2 linked regions of the Homo sapiens genome follow. Each later gene encodes a partner of the first gene's protein in a complex. Links are inferred from orthologs where the notes say so. Each region holds a gene or a part of one and is shown on either strand. Other genes may lie near its edges. The genes, in order: DLG1 and CASK.

Evidence for each region.
Region 2: the proteins of DLG1 (region 1) and CASK are in contact, whole or in part, in an NMR structure (PDB 1RSO), measured with the Rattus norvegicus proteins. The link is inferred for Homo sapiens from one-to-one orthologs. Residues at the interface, in NP_036920.2 of Rattus norvegicus: Arg4, Asp7, Thr8, Arg10, Ala11, Leu12, Leu14, Leu15, Tyr18, Lys21, Leu22, Glu26, Asp27, Leu30, Ser33, Ile34, Arg36, Val37, Ser39, Ile40, Phe41, Ser43, Leu45, Phe46, Leu49, Ile50, Gln53, Glu57, Val58, Leu60; in XP_038955489.1 of Rattus norvegicus: Gly339, Ala342, Ala343, Arg345, Ala346, Val347, Gln349, Val350, Ser353, Leu354, Glu356, Ile357, Leu360, Thr361, Asp367, Leu368, Phe370, Leu371, Ser373, Val374, Phe375, Asp377, His379, Leu380, Thr382, Leu383, Leu384, Asp385, Leu386, Tyr387.

Annotation. Positions count from the first base shown.
Region 1 is NC_000003.12:197,295,540-197,303,737, reverse strand, and holds the start of DLG1 (disks large homolog 1), read left to right. Parts: upstream 1-5,125; 5' UTR 5,126-5,202; exon of another isoform or gene 5,203-5,491; intron 5,492-5,602; exon of another isoform or gene 5,603-6,194; intron 6,195-6,256; exon of another isoform or gene 6,257-6,385; intron 6,386-6,502; 5' UTR 6,503-6,533; coding exon 6,534-6,552; intron 6,553-7,260; coding exon 7,261-7,392; intron 7,393-8,198. UniProt on the Homo sapiens protein: Essential multidomain scaffolding protein required for normal development. Recruits channels, receptors and signaling molecules to discrete plasma membrane domains in polarized cells.
Region 2 is NC_000023.11:41,913,460-41,920,728, reverse strand, and holds part of CASK (peripheral plasma membrane protein CASK), read left to right. Parts: intron 1-7,269. UniProt on the Homo sapiens protein: Multidomain scaffolding Mg(2+)-independent protein kinase that catalyzes the phosphotransfer from ATP to proteins such as NRXN1, and plays a role in synaptic transmembrane protein anchoring and ion channel trafficking.

The sequences.
Region 1 (8,198 bases):
TTTAATTTAGAAAAGGAGCCAAGTAGAGAAAAAGCAGCATAGATTAATCGAAGAAACAATGAACTAATGTTCAGCCCAGCTCCAGCCAGCTGTGGGGTCCTAAACCAAGTTATCTCAGTTTCCTCTTCCTCTGTGCTCTCCTTTGCAAAGTGGGAGACCATAACCAACGAGTTTATCTTATCGGTTGCTGTGGACCTGCAGTGAGTTAAATCTGCCTTTGAACACTGTATGAGAGGCTATACCACTCTCCGGATAGACCAGTTTACACGGGAGGCAGTTATTAGTCCTATGCTGATTTAGTACTCCATTATACCACACTCCAGGAATCTTAGGGTGGCTCTTCCATTAAAAAGCATTAATTCAGTGCCTAACTACCTATCATGGAGATGGTCAACTGTCCACATTTTAAAGGGAATTGGTTTCAACCTGTAGCTTTTATTCTGTTAAGAATTATCTATGAGAAAGAGATCAGTCTTGGTACCACCAAAACTGGGTAGAACGAATTCTTGATGTAGACTAAAGGGTGCTAATACCATTTCAGTATTCAGCAGGGACTGAGGTTTCAACAGCTTAGAACTGTGGTCTCAGAGGTCACGTGGTTCAACCTTATGTCCTGGGTATCTACCACCCTCTGACACAGAATCCTTGCTGGCTTCATTCAGCACCTTCCTGATTAAAAAAAAAAAAAAATTTCCACTACCTTGAGGCAGCTCTTTGGAATTTTGGACAGTTTCTGACAACTCATGTTAAGGAAAAACTTCCTGTGTTTGTCCATTGGTTGAATTTTCATCCATTGACTGTACTTGCCCACTGGGTACACAGAATAAGCCTGTTTGATGACTGCAGCTCCCTGGAGACTTCTGTTTTTCCAATGAAATGGCCCTAGATTGTACAGTTGTTTCCTGATTGCTGTGGTTACTCTCTTCTTTCCACATGCTGGTTTGTTCAGATTCCTTTAAAAGCGTGCTGCTAAGCAATGCCCCCTAGGCTCTCATGGAGGTCTGACCAATATGTCCACTTTCAACATACTTGACACTGTTCCTCTTCCTGCAGCCTAAGCTGGCATAAGCTTTTTTGACAGCATTAAATCCTTTCCTTTTAGTGATTGCCTTGGCACAGGCAGCATGCTGCTACCCTGCTGGAGTGAAAGCAAAAGATGCAGCGGAGTCTGGCAGGACCTGGACACCTTCATAGATTTATAAGCTGGGGCCTAGATGGAGGAGAAGACAAAGACAGAGATGTGAAGCTGCAAAGGTGGCTTGGGCAGGATGGTTGGGAAGGGAAGGGTTGGAACTTAGAGACAGTATCTTTGACATTGACTCTCTGACATTTCAATAAAAGAATGGGAAATCTGAGCCTTTCCCCATGGTCTTTGACTCCGAAGCCTTTTAAGCTCTTCAAAAGGCAAGTTAACTTGGAGCTGGAAAGTGAACAGCTTTACCTGCTAGTATTTTGTTGAAGTAACTTCTTCTATTCGTCTATCTAACTATCGATAGACAGACAGATAGGACAGATATAGATAGATAGATAGATAGATAGATAGATAGATAGATAGATAGATGATAGATAGATAGATAGATATAGTGTGTGTGTATATATATATATATTTAATGAGGAAGTTGGAAAATTAGATCCAATATTGTGTCCTATTCAATGGCAGCTGCTCACTGCACAAAGTAAGGAAAACTTTGAGGAAATAAAAGTTGCTTAGAAAAATCCAGATGTCAGGGCTGGGTGCAGTGGCTCACACCTGTAATCCCAGCACTTTGGGAGGCTGAGGCGGGTGGATCACGAGGTCAGGAGATCGAGACCATCCTGGCCAACATGGTGAAACCCCGTCACTACTAAAATACAAAAAATTAGCTGGGCGTGGTGGCACATGCCTGTAGTCCCAACAACCCAGGAGGCTGAGGCAGGAGAATAGCTTGAACCCGGGAGGCAGAGGTTGCAGTGAGCCGAGATCGTACCACTGCACTCCAGCCTGGCAACAGAGCAAGACTCGGTCTAAAAAAAAAAAAAAAGAAAAGAAAAATCCAGATGTCATTGCTTTGTATGTTGTGATGATGTGGTAGCCAGCTCCAAGAAGATGGCCTCCAGTGAGTCTTACTTTCTGGTATTCATATCCTTGAGGCTGATCTAAGTAACTGATCGGATATTATGGAGTATGCTATGGTCTGAATGTTTGTGTCCTTCTTAAATTAATACGTTGAAATCTTCACCTTCAAAGTGATCATATTAAGAGATGAGGCTTTTGGGAGGTGATTAGGTCTTGAAAGTGGAGCTCTTCTAAATGGGATTAGAGCCTTTATAAAAGATGCCAGATAGAGCTTGTTAGTCCCTTGCACCATGGGAAGATGTAGCAAGAAGGCTCCATTCATGAGGAATGGGGCTATTACCAGACACTGAATCTCTTGGTGTTTTTTTTTTTTTTTTTTTTTTTTTTTTTTTTTTTTTTTTTAAGACAGAGTCTTGCTCTGTCGCCCAGGCTGGAGTGCAGTGGCGCGATCTCGGCTCACTGCAACCTCCGCCTCCCGGATTCAAGCAATTCTCTGTCTCAGCCTCCTGAATAGTTGATTACAGGTGCCTGCTACCATGCCTGGCTAATTTTTATATTTTTAGTAGAGACGGGGTTTCACAATCTTGGCCAGGCTGGTCTTGAACTCCTGACCTCGTGATCCACCTGCCTTGGCCTCCCAAAGTGCTGGATATTACAGGCATGAGCCACCGCGCCTGGCCATTTTTTTTTTTTTAATTTTTATTCTCATGACTGTTAGATCACATCTGATGGTGTTTTGATCTTGGACTACTTAGTCTCTAGAGCTGTAATACATTCCTGTTGTTTATAAATCACCCAGTCTAAGGTATTTTGTTATAGCAGCCCAAACAGACTATGACAGAGTGTCACTTTTGAGACTAAGTGATGAAAGGCATTGTGGCTTCTTCTGTCTCGCCATCTTGAATCACTTGCTCTGTTGGACGTCAGCCGCTACGTCATGAAGACACTCAAGCAGCCCTATAGAAAGGTCTTCATGGTGAGAAATTGAAGCCTCCGCCCAATAGCCAGCATCAACTTACTAGCTATGTGAATGATCCATGCTGAAAGAGCCTCCCGTAGTCCCCCTGAAGCCTTCAGATGACTGCAGCCCTGGCAGGCTTCTTGACTGCAACATCATAATGCCCTGAGCCAAAACCACCCAACTATGCCGCTCCTGAATTCCTGACACACAGAAACTGAGATAATATTTATCGCTGTTTAACTTACTAAGCTAATAAGTTTTAAACCCTTAAGCTTTGAGGAACTTTTTTTTTATCCAGCAATAAGTAACTAATAAAGATGGGTAGAAAGGAGGAATGAAGAGTAAAGAGCCTTTATTCATTGTTCATATATGTTCATTTGCTAGGCACTTGCTGCCGGCACCTTAGGCTAAGGGTAGAACAAGTGCTGGGTTCACTGCTGCTTTTGTACACCGCTGACAACCAAATAGGGCTGTCACACAGAATGACAAGAAAAAAGGACACGTCCTCTTTCCTCCCCTTCCTCCTTTTTGCTTTTAGGGGAAGGCTAGGATGACATTGAGAACTCACACAAATTTTGTTTTTGACTCCTCAGTGTCCCCTGGGAAAAGGTGCATTGGCCTTTGTGTACTTGCTACAAGGCTGTGTATCCTTGAGAGCAGGACTCGGATCTTATTTATTTCTATCCCCGTTTCCTAGCAAGTGAACATATATGAACAATAAATGTTATCAAGGGAGAGGGCAAATTTCCCTCCCTGTTTCTTCTGAATTCTGAAGAGATTCCATTGTTAGAATGGTTTCTTACTGCAACCATCCCATTCACAGTCCATCAGCGAAGTCTTGAGAGTATGATGCCTGTCATGAGCCACTTTCACTACTAAATAAATTCCGTCCCTCTGTTAAGTTCCCGGCTGTTAGGACACCTCTGCCTTCAGCACCGTTTGACCCTTCTATCCCATTTTCTCTATGCAATGTTGCTTTAACTGTTGTTCAAGATCCCAGGATGCTTGATCCGGGAAAGCACAGAGGTCTGCTGCCAACATACCAACATACCTCTCTGTCAAGTTGTCCAAAATCACAAGAGAAAGAGCCCTGGACTAGAGCTAGGAGACCTGAGTTCTCGGCTGCTCTGTTACTGATTAGCGTCTATGTCCTTGGACAAGTTGCTTCCCTTTTTCCGGACCTCGGTTCCTTGTCCTAGATAGGTTCTAAAGTCGGTGGGTCCTTACAGTAAGTTAGGATTCTAAGGTGCAATCCAAAAGTAAAACCAGTGGTCAGTATACCTCTGAGTAGCTGTTAAGGTTACAATACGAGGTTCCTCGGCCTTCCCTTTGGTAGCCAATGGATACGGCCTCAGTCAGAGGCCGTCAGGTTTACTGGGAAGAGCCTTCCGGTTTTGAAAGACAGGATCTCCGGGTTTCCAGTTCTGTCACTCACTCGGGGTAACTTTGGGCAAATTCTCTCTGGACCTCCTAATAGGGAGGTCCTCGTCACCCCGAGGAAGTTCGAAGACGTGGGCAGTGACTTGGAAAGCTTCCCGAGATTCCCCTTCTATAACCTGGGTGGCTCAGACCGGGAGCGGGGTCCCAGCCGGCCGGTAATTCCGCCCGGAGGTGCGCACGAAACAAACCTGCAGCGCTGGCCGAGGGCGGCTCAGCTTCGGAGGGCGCGACTCCGGGTGAGTTCTTAAAGGGACCGTCAGAGTTTGGGTAACACCTGCGATGCTGACCGGGCGGGGACGCAGGCTTGAGGGAAATGAATGAATGAATGAATGAGCGAATGAATGAACAAACCTTCTCTGCCCACCCTTAAGTATACCATACTCGGAATTAATCAGTTAGGCTTAAAAATCTTGTACTATAACCCTCAAACTCTTGCCAAGTTAACCAGTGTCTCTATTTCATATGTCCTTCTGTAATGAAACCCCTCCCCCCAAGCCTATTACTAAGGGACGAAGAGTAACTTAACAATCAGCCTGGAGTGGAAGGCAATGCAGAGTTGGCACCCCTCCCCGAACTCCTCCCTCTCCCTCTCCCAGGCCCCGCCCTCCCCGCCCCCTGGGAGGTGCAGTTGGCTCCTCCTTAAGGCGGCTTTTCCCCGGTGGGGATCTACCCCCGGGGTCGCCAGGCGCTGTCTCTGCCGCGGAGTTGGAAACGGCACTGCTGAGTGAGGTTGAGGGGTGTCTCGGTATGTGCGCCTTGGATCTGGTGTAGGCGAGGTCACGCCTCTCTTCAGACAGCCCGAGCCTTCCCGGCCTGGCGCGTTTAGTTCGGAACTGCGGGACGCGCCGGTGGGCTAGGGCAAGGTAAAGGCGGGCTCCTCCAGGGCCACCCCGGGCCACCTGTGGAGTCCGAGTGTTAACTCCTTTGTTCTCAGAGCCACTTCAGCGGCCGCCCTTTTAAGCGAAGAGGTTCCCTTAGGATGCTCCCCGGGTACCCCTTCCGTTCCCCTGCCCTCCCCCGACCCGCCTCCCCCTTCCAACCCGAAGGTAGCAGCGCGGGGAGCCCGGGGCTCGGCGCGAGCCGCCTCCTCACTTCCCATTGGCTGAGAGCGCCGGGAAAGCGGTCACGTGGGAGCGCGGCAGGCCAGCTCGGGGGCCGCCATCTTGGCGGAAAGTTTCGGGGGAGAGCGGTTGGGGGCGCGGAAGGAGGCGAGGTTCCGGGGGTGGGGCGTGCGGCAGCAACTGGGCGAGCGGGCCGGGGGGCCGCGGCGAGCGAGGAGGCGGCGCGGCCGAGAAGGAGGACGAGGCCGCGGGGGTGCGGCGGCCCAGGGGAGCTCCTCCCCCGTCCCTTCGCCCCCTCCGCTCGGCTCCGCGGGCCCCGGGCGGGGCGGGGGTACGTGGAGCGGGGCCGGGCTGGGGAGCTGCTCCGAGTCTGGCCGGGGCGCACCCCAGTTCCGAGCGCACGCCGCTCACCGGAACTTTGTGGCGGCGCCGCAGGTGTGGGGGCCCGCGGAGGTGTGCATGCGGGGCGCGAGGGCGTCGCGGAGAGCGGCCGCTGCCCTGTCCGGCCCCCGCTGGAGCAGCCCGGAGGCAGCGAGCAAGGAGAAAGGCAAGCGAGAGGAGGGGGCCCGAGCAGGGCGGGCGGCCAGTCCCGCTGGTCCCCTCTCAGCGCTCTGCGGCCGCTGCTGGCTCAGGGGCCAAGGGTCGGAGCGCTTCACCCGCCCGTACCCAGTAGCAGGTGGGGAGTGTGGATACTTGTGCGGGGGAAGAGGCGGCCTCAGGTCTAGGCTCTTTGGGGAGGGGACGCTTTCGAGGAGAGTTTGGAAGCCGACTTCTGTCTGTTCTTAATTTGGAGGGGTACCCACTCCAAGGAAAAGCTTTCCACGTTGACAGACAACTGCTGCGTTTTGAGACTCTTTCTTTGACTTGGTAAAACTTTGGAACGTGGGGTTTTCAAATAGGCTGCGAGGGTTTTCTATTTCGATAGGGGAAAATGCTAGTTTAACATGATTCTATCCTTTTTCCTTTCCGTTGTGTGTTTTAAAGGTGTGTGCCCTCTTCCTGATTCTGGAGAAAAATGCCGGTCCGGAAGCAAGGTGAGAGTTTATTCCGTAACTCTGTTGTCGATGTCACTTGCTTTTCCGTGTGTCAGTTTTTTGATTGCCGTTTTAGAATCGTTTGTGTAACTTTGATGAGACAGCACGGTCCTAGCTTTATTGCTTAGGGAATCTAAGCCTCATATCATTTCAGAAGATGGAAACACGAAAATGTTTGTTAAACTTTCTTAACATTTCTCTAGTGATTAAGAGAGGCAGTTAGCCCCCCCCCAACAGATGTCCTTAATAACCCTGAATTGGTGTTTTAGTATTTCACTCTATCATTCTTACTAAGCACTATTCTGTAAGCAACTGTGGGATACTAAGAATTTGTATTTTGAAATGTTAAAAATTTGGATTATGATGACAAATTGTAGATAATCTGCTTTTGCATTATCAGGTAATCTGAAACTGTTGCTAATACTTTGATCTTTTACTTTGGCAAACTACCAGTACACATTTATTCCAAACTGCTCACTCTCCTCCGTTTTCTAATGTGATATATGTTTAAATTTTTCTTGTATTTCTTTAATTTTTTTTTTTATTTTTTGGTCATTCTAAGGAATATGTGTACATGAACATAGTGACATCAATTGACCTGAAGGATTTGCGGAACTATTTAGATGTCATGCAGAATTATTTGCACTAGTATGTGATACTTTTTTTGTAAATAGAGAGTTTTAATCAGGCTCTGCTTTTTCTTCTCAGATACCCAGAGAGCATTGCACCTTTTGGAGGAATATCGTTCAAAACTAAGCCAAACTGAAGACAGACAGCTCAGAAGTTCCATAGAACGGGTTATTAACATATTTCAGAGCAACCTCTTTCAGGCTTTAATAGGTGGGAATTAAAACTTCGTAACTATTATGCCAGCTAGGCTTTATGCTCCTCTCAATTCATTTATTTTAAACTTAAGAAAATGATGTACTTAATTCTCTGAGGCATTCGGTAACTTGAACATCTTCAGTGAGTTGTGTGTTTTTCATAGGCCAGTGTCCTTTCTTAAAATAACTAGTAACCAAAAAACTTTCAGGATTATTTCAGTGGCTTTTGAGAACATTGTTTCACATCTTAATAGCATTAACTATTAAAAGATGTTGCACAGATGTTTAAGGACCTAAAAGGTATGACTGAGTTACTGTGAGCTTGTTTCTGTATTTGACTGGCATGTCTCTGAAGTCATTGAAAGCGTGTGAAGGGTTCTGCTGTGTTGAAGAACATTCATTCCCTTAATGTAGATTTCTGTTTGAGCTTGGCATTCATGGAGTCAGAATTTTAGACCTGGAAAATAATCTTAGAGATGATCTTGTCTAGTAACCGTATTTTACAGGCAAGAAAATGGAAAGTTTTATTCTTAATTGTAACTTAATTTGAAGTGGTGCATTGTTTGAAAGAACTGGAAAAATAAGAGTCCTGAGTTCTTTTGCCACTAATTGAATGATATATCCCAAGTCATTTAATCTTTTCTATGCCACCATATTAGCTGTAGAATGTAGCTGTTGAAATGACAGAATGGGTTTAAAGCCTTTTTTAAGTAGATAAATCATTTTTAAAAGCATCATCTCATATTTTGTGTATAATCTCCTATGTATAAAACAAGGTGACTTGTCTGGCTCTTTTGTCCAGGTACCTCAAAAAGTTTGCAA
Region 2 (7,269 bases), on another chromosome or scaffold:
TCAGAATCACATTAACACAGTCCATATTCTGCTGATTTGTAATTGATAGAATATTTTTCAGGAAACACCCCTGGGAGAAAAAAATTCATCTTTTCTGACTGTTTCAGAGCTGCATAAAGAGGGGCAGCAAGCTAATTTTGAGGTGATAGGTACTCTATGGCTACCTTAACTACTATGAACTGTGAAATCTCATTCATATCCTACAAAATCTGACTTGGTCAGTGCCAATTATAAAATGCCATTATGTGAAATAATGAATTCAAGCTAGCCTTATTGTTAAAGAATGTAATAATAGTGTTCCTCAATCTGAGTAAAGGTTGAAGGTTTCTCTAGTAAATTGTCTTAGTATATATTGATCTGGAAATTGAAATTAGCTTGAGATTTTCTTGCAGGGACCTTGACAGCATACATTTTTAACTTATAATTTGTTCACCTCTGAATTTGAACAGAAAGCCCTTGAAGATATTCACATGTACTGAAAACCTTTTTATTGATTTCTATCCAAGTTCTATGGAATTTTGATTTTCTTTTTTACCAAATTAGTATCACAAGTTGTTTTTCACCACTAGATCTTAATAGGTTTTAATTTTTACTAAGGTACTTTAAAATAGATTTCACTTTTCAAGACTAATTGACTACCCACTCACTCCTCTACCTACGCAACCACCTACTCACTCACCCACTGTGTACTTGGCCTTACTTGATGGCATAAATGAAAGTTCTCGTTTAATTTAGACCCTTCAGTGTGTTTTTTTCCCCCTTGGTTGAGAAAGATAACTTACAGAGTTAATGAGGTTTTGAAATATAAGATCATTATTTGGAATATGTTTTCTTTCCAGTGGTTGCAGCCTTTACCCTTGTTAAAGCTGTCTTTGAGGGAACATGTGCCCAATTTGTTACAAATATTGGAAGGATGCCGTTTCCCTTTTTAAAAATTAAAACTCTTTTCCCTGTGTTTCTCATTTTTGAAAATCTTGCAGAAACTCCTTTGAGTGACTGTTGGTTCTATAACATTTTCTATGTAACTATCTTTTAAATGACTGAAACAAATCTCCAATAATAAGACCTTATCATAGTCCCAAAACTTCTTGTCTTAGCAAATGTAGCGATTACTGGAAAGGAAGGGCGTTATGCAAATGAGGTTAATGACTAATTTTTATGTCATGATCATTTACTGTATCTTTTACAATTATAAGTAAGTGTACAACCGGTAATACTACATGAAGGAAATTTAAGACAATTCATCGAAATTAAAACATAGAAAAATGCCTACTTTCTTGGTACAGCAGTGTGTATGAAAGGGAATAACAAAATACATACCATTTTTACCTTGTGTTAGGTGAATACTTGCCCTGTTTAGTAGCCTGTAGCTTCAGACTTTCCTGCTCTGGTAGGACATACACTAAAATTGGAATGATGCAGCATGACCCTTGCTTAAGGATGACGTGCAACTTTGTGAGGCATGCTGTATTTGCTTACTCCTCGAGAGCACTTTTATTTAATTACAGTTACTTATTTATGGATCTCTCTAGTTCACTAATAAGGAGCTTCCTGAGGGCAGGGAATGTTTCTTACACATCTTTCTCCATTAACACAGTGCGTGCAATGTAACTGCCTTTCATTAGCTGTGGAATGAATTGAGTAGTTTTAATAAAATCTCATTAAAAGGCAAAAAAGCATGTTTGTCAACCTCAGAGCAATTATTGTCCGAAGAGCCTGCATTAGTTTAAAGTAGTGGTTCTCCACCTGGCTGCATATTAGAATCATCCGGGGAGCTTTTAAAAAAGATCAACGCCAGAGCCCTGTGTCAAAGCAGTGAAGTCCGAGTTTCTGGGACTGGGTCCTGGTCACTGACATTTTTTTAAAGCTCTCTGTGTGATTCTAATATGCAGCTATAATGAGGAATCATTGGCTTAAAACTTAGATTATGTATGTAATATTTTGGGACTGGCTTTTCAGAGGCTTACAATTCTTACAAAGTAGAATAAATTCTTTTTGGAAGGTATTGAAGCTAAATGGCTAAAACATGGATTTTATCTTCTATGCACTTGTGTTTCTCAGCCTTATTGTGTAAAAATTTAGTTTTAGCTTGTGTTTGGCTTTGATTTCTTGGGCCTTTTAAGATCCACATTGATTTATGACACTCATCTAATGCTAACATGGCGATTGTCTGACGTTTGGAACAACACAGAACAAGGATTGCTTCAATAACAGTTGATGATGGTTTTCCACTATAATGGCTTGATTTAATATGAAGAAATTTATCAGTTTAGTATGGATTGTGTTTGTACATACACTCTATTAAAAGAGTATGGTTAAGTTGCTTGTATGCTTTAAATTACATACTTGTGATTCCAGTAATGCTGTTAGCTGGAGAATTGAGTTAATGCAGCCTTTATGTAAATACTGGATTAATAATACGTAAAGTATATAATTCAGCATACAGAAAAATTCAGCTTTACTAATTTGTACTAATTACTATGACTTTCACATGTATTGATTCATGCAGTGATTTGGGTTTCTAGTACCATAGGGAGAATTTCGCATTGTGTTGAAAAAATGTTTCCCGGAAATTTTAACTAGACTTTGTAGGTAAACTAGTTTTTAATGTTAGGAAAAGATCAAGTGTTTGCCTGAAGGAACCGAGAATTTTCCAGAAATGAGTAGATATTCCAGAAATACCAGTGATCGTGAAAGCAGTGCATGATCACAGTGACAGCCAAGTAACAAGGTAAAAGAAGTGATCAGCAGCTAAATTGTTGGTGGCCCAGAAAGAATGCAAGCCATGGGAGTTAAGCTGTACTTCTACAGAGGAAAATCCTTTTGAACTCAGGGTGTGGATGCTACAGATAGCAGGCCTCAATGGGAGTGGGGAAGCAATATTGATTCCTGATGATCCTAGGATCATTTGGAGGGAGAACAGAGCTACTCCGTTGCTTTTCTGCATGTATACAACCTTCTCTAGTCTCTTCCTGTCTGCTTTTTACAGATTGCTTTAGGGTGTGTTGTTTGAAGTTGTCTTCATAAATACTTCCTGTGGACTCCCTTAATTTTTATGTCCGTAACACGCTTCTATGTACTTGACATACGCAGTTCAGCTCTCTCCATTTTTTCCTTGTATCTGCAACAGTTTCACCTGATGAACTACGTCTCAAGTGTCCCTAAATTGTGTACCTGGATATTTCCTTTAAACTGAAAATTCTGTCTCCAGCTGTAGTTCTACTCAATAAATTGAAGGAGCAGATATACCTTGCTTCTTGAGATTATTCTTGAATTATTACATTTTCTTAAACGTTTTCACATTTTAAATGTGGTAGGAGCACTGCATTTAAAGGAACTTTGACATAAGGTTGTTTAAAAAACTTCTATAACTTAAAGCTTACTTTATAAAGGGATTGACATTTATCCCTCTAATGTTAGGCATTTTGGATGTATTATTTAATCATACCCATTTTACAGAGAACACTGAGATTCAGAGGGGGTGATCAGTAATTCGCCTAAGATCACACAGATTCCAACGCGGTTCCATGGTTTTAAAGTCTGTTCATTTCATGCTGCATTCTGCTGCTAATTCAAGTTGTGAAAATACTGTGTTGGATTTTCTTAAAGACACGTCTTCATTTTCAGAGTTTCTATACTGCAAATTTTAGTTGTTTGACTTTCTGGTTAAATTTCTTATTTCTTCAGTAGAGGTTCCATATACTATTCATTCTTTCATCTGTTTCTTTTTTATTTTTGTCTTTCTCTTTAATGAAACATCAGCATTTGTTACCAAACTAACTGGTAAATCTAGCAATGGAAATATAGACTCTTGGCCATCTGTCCAAAATATAATTTGTTTTGGAACTTTCTCTACTTCTTTTACTCTCCAAATTTTTTCTTCCATTTCCCTTGCCCCAACAGACAGGATAGTTGATTAATTACCCCTAACTTGCCAAACCAGAAGTAATAAGGTTTCAGAGGTAGATGTTTGTTGGAAGTGGGGTGGAGTGGTTTCCAAAGGATAGTTATTCCTTTATCCTGTGATAAAAATACGGAGATTGTTCTCTCTGATTCTGAAAACCGTGTAGTGAGCTGCAGCCGCTGAGTCTGTGAGCTTCTAGCTGTTTGCCAGCACTGTACACCTTAAATAATCAAGAGACTGAGTTAACTATTGCAGAGCAGGTACCGGACCCCAGCCAACAAGCTGATGGGATGTGCTGTTCTCACATTTTTTGGTTTTATTTTTTAGTTGCAACTGACAGTGAAGATTCTAGAAGCACCAAATATGGCTCTGGATTTATGCTGTGGGATTTAAGATGCTACAGAACTTGCTCTCCTTCCTTTCTGTCCTGGAGCCACTATGGTATTGGTTGTAGAGCCCAAGTCAGTATAGAGTCTCTGACTTCTACCCTGGGAAAATTTCATTTCCGAAGCTAGTTTGTTTTGAAGTTAATGTTTATTTCCAACATTGAGATTTAATAATTTTGTGTTACTTTTCTTTATTAATTAGTTTTTATACAGTAAATTATAAAAGTAATGATGCACGTAGTAAATTTTATTTTCTTTTTTTGAGATGGAGTCTCGCTCTGTCTCCCAGGCTGGAGTGCAGTGGCACGATCTTGGCTCACTACAACCTCCGCCTCCTGGGTTCAAGTGATTCTCTTGCCTCAGCCTCCCAACAAGCTGGGATTACAAGCATGCACCACCGCGCCTGGCTAATTTGTGTGTGCGTGTGTGTGTGTGTGTGTGTGTGTGTTTTGAGACGGAGTCTCACTCTGTCGCCCAGGCTGGAGTGCAATGGCGCGATCTCGGCTTACTGCAAGCTCCGCCTCCCAGGTTCACGCCATTCTCCTGCCTCAGCCTCCCGAGTAGCTGGGACTACAGACGCCCGGCTAATTTTTTTTTTTTTTTTTGTATTTCTAGTAGAGATGGGGTTTCACCATGTAAGCCAGGATGGTCTTGATCTCCTGACCTCGTGATCCACCCGCCTTGGCCTCCCAAAGTGCTGGGATTACAGGCGTGAGCCACCGCGTCCAGCCTAGTTTTTTATTTTTAGTAGAGACGGGGTTTCACCAGGCTGGTCTCGAACTCCTGACGTCAGGTGATCCACCTGCCTTGGTCTCCCAAAGTGCTGGGATTACAGGCGTGAGCCACTGTGCCCAGCCATACAATTTAAAATATAGGTGATACAAAGATAAGTAGTGAGTCTGTCTCAATTCTCCTACCATCCATATCCCCATTCTCTAGAGGTAACCATTGTTCAGTTTCTTCTCCATCTTTCTGGAAGCTTTTTGTTTAAAAGTGAGATATTTGTATACTATGCTGAAATATTGATTTTTCATGAATAATAGTATATACTTGATGATCTTGTCATATCCATCAATGTATCTGTCTGTCTCTATCTCCTCTTTAGCTGCTGCCCAGTATTCTGTCATATGGATTGTTACTTTGGCTTTGGATTGAGTGCAAGCCAATTGTAATTTTACATTGCTTGAAATGCTGAGCTGGAATTTGGGTGAGAGGTATGGAATGGCAGTGAAGATTTGGGAGTCATCTGTGTGGAAGTAAAACTGAGTGAACAAGTTCTTGGGGGTTGACTGCTCTAGGGCTCGTGGTTTGGAGTATAACTCATAGAGTTAGAAGAATCAGGATAATGGGCTGCACAGAAGTTTAAAAGAGGGGGGAGGATCAATAATGTAAAATGCCAATATACTCTGAGGACTAAGAACACATGTGGCTATAACAGAGAAACAATTTAAAGCACTTATCAAAATGAATATTATGTTTAATAGTCAATTCATGATGTGTCTGAAAAGCTAGGTCTGGCTTCTTTTCTGTGGATACTAGTAATTTTATACTATCTCTCTGTAAATCTATCTCAGAACCAACATATTTAGGGTAAAAACAAAGTAGATTTCTTTTTCACTCTAATTGTGTTTTGCAGATTTCTGATGACTGGCTTTTAGGTAAAATCATTTGGTTTTCCTAAGATTATGTCCTTTTCATTCCCGAGCTTGTGCATGACTGTCAATTAAATGGAAGCCTTTCATGAAGTGACAAAGTAAGTTTTAGATACTTTACATTTACTTTAAGTTCTTGGTATGTGTCAAACCACTGTTATTGTCTTATATCTTTCTACTATAGGAAACTGAATTCTTTCTAGCCTCAAGGATTTTTGTCCACGTTGGATGAATGTAGTACTGTCCTCCTCTTTCACATTTCTTCTCCCATCACCTCCTAACTAAATTTGTTCATTGGCTATTTTTGGTTGTCCACATCCATTCACAATAAGAAACGATTGCTTCGTTGTACATAAGCCAGTTTTTTGGTATCTAAGTGCGTGCTATTTCACTTCAGCTTCTTGTATTCTATTTATTACTGGGCTGTTGTACATTGTTTTTTCTCCCAATCTTTGTGATTTCTTTTAATATACTTTCTTTCCTTTTTGCTTTGTAATCATTGTTTTGAGTATTTGAATCATTTGCAGGTAAGAATGTGGATTGTTCTGTCTCTCATGTAGTTTAATAATATCCAAAATATACTATGTTCAGTCTGTATTTCAGGCTTTTAACACTTAAGTTAGAGTATTTTGGTATATTTAAATCTAGGATAGAAGTACACTGTATTACCATTCAACTACATGCAGATTTTAATGTTTTCTTAAATTAAAGGATGATGATATTCATTCAGTTACAGAGGTCTCTCTCTCTAGTCCTTCCATGGTGTGCAGATTACCATTATACTACTGCTATTTCATAGATTCTAATTTGTGTTTTTAGAAAACATCATCAATTCTTGGCCTTCTTTCTTACCCTTGGTATGTGATTTCCCCTAAAGGTATGGAATGCGGTTGCTCTGTGGCTTGTTAGGCAGCCCCCTTCTGATCTGGTAACCTTTGGGCACAGTGTGGCTATTTTCTCCTTATTTATAAAAGGAATGATAGCTGCTTCACAAACCATTTGTGTGGATTAGTGAATTGTAAAGTGCAGCATAAGTATTTTTTATTTCTAGAATGTCTCTGAGATACTCAAATTACTTTTGGCAGTTATGTACGTAAGTTTCAACAATTTCCAAATGTGCACATTCTCAGTGCTAAACACAGGCTCTATTACATAAATAATATGGTGAAATGAACATTCTTTTCTACCATGTGTGTAAAATTGTTAGTGGTGCTAACTTTTATTCATTGTTCATTTATGTATTCATTTCTAGCTATGAGGTCCTGGGCAAGTTAGTTAGCCTCTCTGACCCTCAGTTTCTTTATCTGTAAAATGTGGTTAATGGTAT